Regions from separate parts of the Homo sapiens genome. Here region 2 is reported to be linked to region 1. Evidence: microRNA targets listed by miRTarBase, many of them from high-throughput screens and not tested one by one. Region 1 holds a microRNA gene; the other region holds the end of a gene's coding sequence.

Region 1 (4,393 bases):
TAAATCCCCAAGGGACGCCAGCTGTCTCCACCCACCCCAGGGGTGAGGACTGAAGGATTTCTTAAGACTGTGCCTCAGACTGGGGTGAAGGTGAAGCTAGACAAGCCCAGGACCACAATGACATTTGAATCTACATTGGGATTCCCTTGGTTAGCTAAATGCAAGAAAAAAAATTCAAAATTCAGATCATAGCTCCTACTCTCAAACACAGTTTATTTATAGGTAGCTCTAATGTATTCAGAAGGAGCAAAAAAGGATACAATGCTTTAGGTATTATTCTGGAATGTTAATTTTTTTTTAAGTGACACACATCAAACCAATGGGGTAGAGACAATACAACCACCTCAGGATCCAGCTGTCTCCTCTCTGAGCATTAGCTCATCTACCCCCTCTTCCTGCCACGCTCCTGAGGCAAAGGTTTTGTAATCAAAAACCACTACCTTCAAACTATCAAGCCAAAGGCGAACAAGGTTCCTTTCCTCCTGCCTTCCCTCCCTTCCCACCATGAACCTGTCAGTCTCTTCTAGCTATAAAATGTTCATGCCCCTGTTTAAAATAATAATAATAGTAATAAACTTCCAAGAAAATGAAAGCTGGAGCAAAATGCCCTGCCAGTTAACCATCTTGGGAAAAGGTCAAAATAACCTTCCCTGGAACGCCCTTATCTTCTGGCCACAGAAAGCTGCCAAAGCCTTCCCTGCTATGTACAGAAGTAAAATCCCCTCACTGGCATCCTTCTTACACTGTCCATTTCCTCCTCTCTTCTCTGCAGGCTCTGTCTTTCCTGGCCACAGGCTGGAAAATGCACTGGTGGTAGCATGATACAACATTTATGTAAATTTCCATAGTTAAATGTTTCCTTTACCTAAAACTTACAAAATACCTTTTGAAAAATTAAAACTTTTAAGTCATAAAAATGACGTAAATCCCCACTACATAATCCTCTCATTTATATTCTTTCCCGTGTCTCAAAATTCATCAGATCTCAAGCATTTGGCAAAGCTGCAGACATACAAACCAAGCATGAAACATGAGCTATGCCTTCATCTACCTGAGCTGTCGGCAGACATTGTTACTTTGACAGAATATTTAAGAAAAGAAGTCACCAAAAACTTACCACAGCCTAATACTGGCAATGGGGGGTCTTAAAGATCAGTTCTCATAGAACCACTAACAAGCACGGGTGCAGTGTGGCAAAGGCAGCCACTGTGTTTCACAAGGTCATCAGCCACAGCTGTCAGAATAAGCACGAAGGCAACTCATACCACGGCGCAAATGAAGAATACATTCTAGACTAACAGTACGTGAGCCAGGGCCACAGAGGCTCCAGGGCCCAAGTGTGGAGAAATAATAAATCACTATTTACGCAATGAACTACATGTGGCCAAACTTGTGCTCTTTGTCCCTGCCTTCAAGAAGGGGCCAACCATCCCCAGTAACATGGACTCACCGATAGGCCACCTTGAGTCTTCCTAAGTGACAAGCATTTATTCCAAAGAACAAGGAGCAGCACCAAGACAAATGAACAAACAAGAGCTCAAGTTTGTGACTTGTTTTCCAGACTGCTCAATTCTCATTAAACATGCAAGCAGTAGTGCTGTGTTCGGCTGTAAGTGACGCTCTGCATATGCCTGGCTAGCTCCTCCACACGCATTTGTGGAGGAGCTAGCCAGGCATATGCGGAGACTTGCCATGTAACCTGCAGCAAGTTACTCACCTCCACCTCCCTATGTTCTTCTGCACTTCCTCAAAGTGAAAGTTCATTTATTAGGTAAGGAACAAGAATTGAATCCAAGTTTGCATTCACTGTGCCAGGCATTTAAAGCTGCCACTCACATGTTGTGGAATGAACTGTATGGTCTCTTACAGCCATAAAACATCCAAGTCTCTAGGATTATGCTGTTAGGTTCCAAAGAATATAGTGTACAGTAGTCATGAGAAATATCATGACTTTCTGAGATTATACACACATATGCATATATATGTATGTGTGTATATATATCTCTCTCTTCTCATATAGACATAAATCGGTATCAGAAGGTATATACGATACACAGTGTGTGCATATTTATGTATCTATCCCCTTCCTTTATCTACCTCTAAGCTAGGAGAGGCATCAGGCTGAAGAAGTCAAAGTATAACTACTAAAATGAGATAATATAGAAGAGAAAATATTTTTAAAGAATTAAAAATATAAAGCTATATAAATGCAAAAATATAACTAATGCTTAAGAATTATTAGACTAGTTGGCGGAAAAATTTCTTCTGAAGAGGGAGTAGAGTAATGCTATTGTTATTTTAAACCTCACCAAAAAAAAGTGAACTATACATAATCTCCTATACCAAGCAAAACACTGCAAAAGCTACAGGTGACCAGAATTATATAACGCCTTTTGAGAATGTACAAGCGTTTTCAGGTACATACATTTCATTAATTTCTAGAATGTTTTTAAGAGTTGCCAGACCAAGGCCCTGAAATTTTCAAATATAAAAATCCTATCTTGGAAGGCGGGGACTCTTACAGAGCTGGGGCCTAGTTTAGAATAGCATTATCTTAGATAAGAGCCCAGCCTCCCTCCAAGCCGTAACAGGAAATGCTTCATAAAGAAGTCTGCATCCTTAGTCCCAGACCTCCGCAGTTAGTATTTGGATTCTAGCCTTTATAAATGGACTTCTCAAAGGTGCATCCAACATCTGAGTATTCTGGCAGCAGTAACGTAAAAGGACTGACAAGGAAGGCTGCAGAGAGGTGTCAGACACGAAAACGCTTGAAGACATAAAAATGAGGAGTCTTAAGCACCTAAGAACTGCAATTCCCTATCTGAGCAGCAGGTAAGATTCTGGGGTATCAGATCACTGTATCCAGTTCCAGGTTCTCCACTGGCAGAGAGTGCAGTCTCTGACTTTGTCCTCTGAATGCAGGAACTTTATCGAAGCTAAAGTACCTGCTTTGGACACTTCTGGCACAGGTGTTGGGGTGACAGGAAACATCATCAATTCAGCTGCCAACTACAGCGGAAAAAAACTAGGGAATAATCCTCAGAAAATGGCACTGTTAATGGGTACAAAAAACACAGATAATAGGAATAAGCTCTAGTGTTCAGTAGCACAATAGCGTGACTATAGTTAACAATAATTTATTGTATATTTCAAAATAACTACAAAAATGAATTTGGAACAAAGAAATAAATGATAAATGTTTCAGGTAATGGATATTCCAATTACCCTGATTTGATCACTACACTGTATGCTTGAATCAAAATATCACGTCTCCTATAAATATGTACAACTATTATGTGCCCATAAAAACTAAAAACAAAAAAGAAAGAAAATGACACTTAAATATTAAAATACCTTTTATCCCCGAATCCCACATTTCAGTTTGGTCTTCTGAAAAAATGACTTATCAGTTTCTCAGCTAAAGAAATGATATCGACAGTGTACTACCTAAATTATACCTTATATTCTTTCCTTTCCAAAATATAAATTCGCCAGTGAACAATCTGATCCTAAAGAGGGCGGAAGATTAACCCGCCTAGCATGAGAGCACAGCTTAAAATAAATGCTGTTAAGTAGTCCTCAGGTAGAACAACTTTCCCAGCCAGCAGGCCCAGGAACTCAAGGTCTAGCTTAAGTTGGGTATTTGTATTCAAGAAGGAATTACAATCATGGAGTCAAATGACTTTTTCAATGCAGACGACAAAACGTAATCAAGTCAGTAGACACTTTACTAAGAGGAGGCTAAGCAAATGGTTATTTGCTTAAGGTTAGGGAACTCTTAAGCCCAAGGACCTGAGAGCCTGGGAAGGCGGGGGGGAATGGGTTTGACTCCCAAAGTTTGCGTTTCCGCAAGTGGTTAACACAACTCTAGGAACAAACCCTAAGACCAATACTCCCCACAATCTCATTTCCCCCCATTCTGCATCACCCATCACCCCAAAATAAAAACAGCTACTACAGCACAGCCCTTTGGTTACGCAGGAGGCTGGGACCTGATCCTGGCATAAAAAGCGGATGCGGGCGACCGAGGACCACACACGTGGGGGCGTTCGCGGGCGCTGAAACCAGCTACGAGGCCCACGCCCCCGCCGGGGACAGCTGGTGACCATCACCTTTGGACAGGGGCATTCCCCAGCCGGCCCCGGAACTTGCGAAAGACGCGCAGCCCTTCGGACTCAGCCACTCGCGCAGGGCCCGGGTCCCGGGCGGCTCGGGGCACCTGAGGAGCGCGGCGAAGGCGGGGACAGGGACGGGGACGGGGACGACTCGGGAACAGGGAAGCGCGCGGCCTCCCGCAGGACCCACCTGGATCTGCAACGGCACGAGGCGCACCTTGCAGCGCTCGCTCACCGCGAAGCCCTTGGGCAAGTCCACGTACTGGCCCCACTCCTCG
Region 2 (4,382 bases), not on the chromosome of region 1:
AGACCTCATGGGGGTTCTCACCAAAGGGGTCCGGGAAGTGGAACGGGCCCTGCAGCTGCCCAGGGAGCCCGGAGACTCAGCCCAGTTCACCAAGGCGCTGGCCATCATCCTCCACCTGCTCTACCTGCTGGAGAAAGTGGAGTGCACCCCCAGCCAGGAGCACCTGAAGCACCAGACCGTCTACCGCCTGCTCAAGTGCGCGCCCAGGGGCAAGAACGGCTTCACCCCTCTGCACATGGCTGTGGACAAGGACACCACAAACGTGGGCCGCTATCCCGTGGGCAGATTCCCCTCCCTGCACGTGGTCAAAGTGCTGCTCGACTGCGGGGCCGACCCGGACAGCAGGGATTTTGACAACAACACCCCGCTACACATAGCAGCCCAGAACAACTGCCCGGCCATCATGAATGCCCTGATCGAAGCAGGGGCCCACATGGACGCCACCAATGCCTTCAAGAAGACGGCCTACGAGCTGCTGGACGAGAAGCTGCTGGCCAGGGGTACCATGCAGCCCTTCAACTACGTGACCCTGCAGTGCCTTGCGGCCCGGGCCCTGGATAAGAACAAGATCCCTTACAAGGGCTTCATCCCGGAAGATCTGGAGGCGTTCATCGAACTGCACTGACCTGCCCAGAACGCCTGCACCCTCACCTCTCCCCTCTCCTGCTGAGATGGGGGAAATCCGGCTGCGGCATAGCAGATGCTCGTTCTTGCCTCCTTCAGGCACCAATCAGGAGAAGGGTTCTGCCTCCCATCCCCTCTACCTGCAGACAGGGTCGGAGGTGTTAGCGAGCCTTTGGTGCTAGAAGCCTGCGGGGTCATGTGCTAAGAGGACAGTCTTTCTCCGGGAGCCCGCTCACTCATTCTGAGTTAGGAAAAGACACAAGACCTTCCCCACATCCTGTCTGCCTGGGTTAGGGAGGCCTTTGCCTTGTTACCTAGAGGCGGAGGGACTGAAGCCATTGCGTTCCTTCCCTGCTAGAAACACAGGAAGAAGTTGAGGACTGTCTGCCTTCCCTCGTCCCTTTACCTGGCCAGATAACTCCAGCCGCTGAATACAGTGTTAGGACTGGGGGCTCCTGAGATGAGAGTTTGAGATTCAGGGAATGAGACCACCTCTCATTTCTTCCAGCATGATCGCGCCCTGCTCCCGTGCCACCGTAGTCCCTGGCAGACAGGCAGGGCTCTGCCCAGGGCAGCCTGCCACTTGCATAGCTTTCGGTTGGTTTGGTGTTCTGTTTATTTAATAAGTGGGCAGGTTGCAAGCGTTGCACAGAAATTCTGAGATTTTACTGCCTTTTTTTTTTTTTTTAAGAAAGTTGTTTGTTGGACTCCATAAGTGAATTTCAAGCAGTGAGGATTTTGTGGTGCCTGAGATGGCCGAGGGCACAGGGAGTGAGCTGTATGTGTGAGGAATTTGGTGAGCGAGATAAAAGTCCACGGTGTCAACCCCTAAAACATGGGTGACCGTACATTTTTATACATCTCCACTCTACGGCCTTTTACAGGCTTTCCGATTTTACAGGCCTTTCCAAGTTTCCATTCTCCTTAGAGAGAGAACTGTGCTTCCAAACAGAAATCAGGAGTGACCACAAAGCCTGAAAACACTTTGCCACCCAGCAAAGAACTGGCACAATTGGTTTGGGTCTGCATTGCCATAGTGCCCGAGTTAAAACTGCAGGCCACTCTGCCTTGCAGTGGCCTCTGATTTCATTGTGGGTGCATCCACAGGTGGCCCGAGCTGTTCTTTCAGCTGCTCCAAGGATTGAGACCCAAGTCATCATGAAAAAGGCCCAAGTACAGTCTTAATGCGATAAATCCACTAGCTAAGACGTCGAGTGCCAAGACCAGCCTTCCAGCCGAGGTTTGGACAAAGTCTCAGGTTCCCGTGACTCAGGGTAAGGTGCTGGGGCTGCCAGAGGACCTGCCCCAGCAAGATTTTTGTCAAGAGCGAGACTCCATCAGCCCAGGCAGACGGGAGCAGGTTCTTGGCCAGCGTAGACAGCAGCAAACAGCAGCAGGGAAGCCATTCTCACTGCATCCTCCCTGCAGTAGCCACGGCCAGGCCCTTAGGAGGAGCAGTGACCGGGGGTGTCCAGAAATATCCTGTCCCTGGATGGAAACTAGGTCTCGTTTGGATTTTTTTTTTTTTTTGCCGTGTTAGGAAATTATTTATTAATTTACAAGACAGGTTTTAACTCAGCCGAGGTGGGAAATGGTGTCCCTGTCCCTCCCAAAGCACAGAGCACAGAAATGAGGCCGTTTACATGGCGAGTCTCCGTGCTGGTGTTTAAGTCATTAAAAAGATACTCAAAGAGAATGGCCTGCCTGATGCGTCCTTGGCGTGGGTTAACTGGGGAAGTCGGAGGTGGGTGAGTCAGTCCATGGCATTGGTGTGAGTGAACAGAGAGCCCTAGGGCCACCTCCCCTAGCCAGAGGGGTTTCTGTGTTACATACTGGGGCTTTTTTTTTTTTTTTGAGACAGAGTCTCACCCTGTCCCCCAGGCTGGAGTGCAATGGCGCGATCTCAGCTCACTGCAACCTCTGCCTCCTGGGTTCAAACAATTCTGCTTCAGCCTCCTGAGTAGCTGAGATTACAGGCACCTGCCACTATGCCCAGCTAATTTTTGTATTTTCTGTAGAGGCAGGTTTTGCCATGTTGGCCAGGCTGGTCTCAAACTCCTGAACTCAAGCGATCCTCCCACCTCAGCCTCCCAAAGTGCTGGAATTACAAGCATGAACCACTGCACCTGGCCTCTATGTTACATACTGGGGCTTTGTGTAAAATTTCATTTGAAAAACAGTATGTTGCTCTTTGAAAAAAAGCCTGGGCAACATAGTGAGAGCCTGTCTTTACAAAAATAAAAAATAGGCTGGGTACGGTGGCTCACATCTGTAATCTCAGCACCTTGGGAAGCCTGGGCAACATAGTAAGACCTCTGTCTCTACATTTTTTTTTTTTTTTTTTTTGAGATGGAGTCTTGCTCTGTCACCCAGGCTGGAGTGCAGTGACGCCATCTCGGCTCACTGCAACCGCTGCCTCCCGGGTTCAAGTGATTCTCCTGCCTCAGCCTCCTGAGCATCTGGGACTACAGGCATACACCACCATGCCTGGCTAATTGTGTATTTTTAGCAGAGACGGGGTTTCACCATATTGGCCATGCTGGTCTCAAACTCCTGACCTTGTGATCCACTCGCCTCGGCCTCCTAAAGTGCTGGGATTATAGGTGTGAGCCACCACGCCTGGCCCTTTTTTGTTTTCCTTTATCTGCCATCTCATCTCACCTCCTTGTGTAAACTTGTTCCATTCTAAAATTCTGGTTTTCTCCATATCAGAACAGTCAAACCCCCACCAGAAAGCACCACCCCGTTAGCTGGGTCCATGGGATTTTGCTGAGCCCCTGCCATGTGCCAGGCAGGTTTCAGGCCCCCTTGGGGATAAGGATTGAGCTGTCGATATGAACGTCCGGTTAATCCCTGTGCGCCCGCCTCACGTGGCAGTGGGGAGAGGCCCTGCTGTGGGGCACCGCATGCTGCTTCCATGGTGCATTGGGTTGGAGGGCTCTTCTCCCGAGGGTGGGTGTCTCCCATCTCTTGCCTTCACACACCTGCTGTCTTGTTTCATTTGGGACTGGACAGTCCCACAGGTGACAGCTGTTGGGCTGTTGTATGCCTGTTTGGTGTTGCATCAAAGGAGTGGGTTTGAATCAGCAGGTGCTCTCAAAGCTGTCTCCTGGGAGACACAGTACTAGTGAGCATTTATTGAGCACCTACTGTATGCCAGGCACCATTTTCTGTGGTTAAATGCACTGCCTGTTTACACAACAGCCCTCTAAAGGAGGAAAAACATATCAGAGTCCCATGGATGGAAGAAAAATAATGAAGTAGGAAAAACGGCCCTCTTAAGATGAAGGTCATCTTTTTTTTTTTTTTTTTTTTTTTTTGAGACGGAGTCTCTGTCGCTCAGGCTGGAGTGCAGTGGTGTGATCTCGGCTCACTGCAAGCTCAGCCTCCCGGGTTCACACCATTCTCCTGCCTCAGCCTCCCGAGTAGCTGGGACTACAGGCACCTGCCACCATGCCCGGCTAATTTTTTGTATTTTTAGTAGAGATGGGGTTTCACCGTGTTAGGATAGTCTTGATCTCCTGACCTCATGATCCGCCCACCTCGGCCTCCCAAAGTGCTGGGATTACAGGCATGAGCCACCGCACCCGACCAGATGAAGGCCATCTTAAAGCTCAACCAGTTTCAGGTGAGGGCTGATCCAGCAGATCCCAATTATTCCTAAAGACCTGGTTGATAGCTCCCTTGAGACTGGGGTGGGGTGGGTGTCCCAAGATGACCGCCAGCAGAAAAGAGAGCATCTTTCTCCCAGTCAAAAG

Evidence for each region. The annotated mature microRNA hsa-miR-4633-3p reads AGGAGCUAGCCAGGCAUAUGCA and lies in region 1 at 1,623-1,644, opposite strand. An mRNA with a match to its seed (bases 2 to 7 or 8) in the 3' UTR can be bound and repressed. Matches are read on the target gene's strand: a 7mer-m8 pairs with bases 2 to 8, a 7mer-A1 pairs with bases 2 to 7 and ends in A, and an 8mer does both.
Region 2: miRTarBase lists FEM1A as a target of hsa-miR-4633-3p. Seed matches in the 3' UTR shown: 7mer-m8 at 4,301-4,307.

What each region holds. Positions count from the first base shown.
Region 1 is chr5:129,094,988-129,099,380 of GRCh38, reverse strand. It overlaps MIR4633 (microRNA 4633), which reads right to left and starts at 1,693; the gene lies at 1,615-1,693. ISOC1 (isochorismatase domain containing 1) reads right to left here. Exons shown (of 5, transcript NM_016048.2): 1 at 4,306-4,393. LOC124901060 (a long non-coding RNA gene) reads left to right here and starts at 2,602. Exons shown (of 2, transcript XR_007058926.1): 1 at 2,602-2,832; 2 at 3,982-4,393. RefSeq lists a silencer at 4,235-4,393.
Region 2 is chr19:4,793,240-4,797,621 of GRCh38, forward strand. It overlaps FEM1A (fem-1 homolog A), which reads left to right. Exons shown (of 1, transcript NM_018708.3): 1 at 1-4,382. The coding sequence ends at 625. Among named protein-coding and RNA genes, the nearest start is that of FEM1A, 3.7 kb to the left of the region's middle. RefSeq lists an enhancer at 1-119.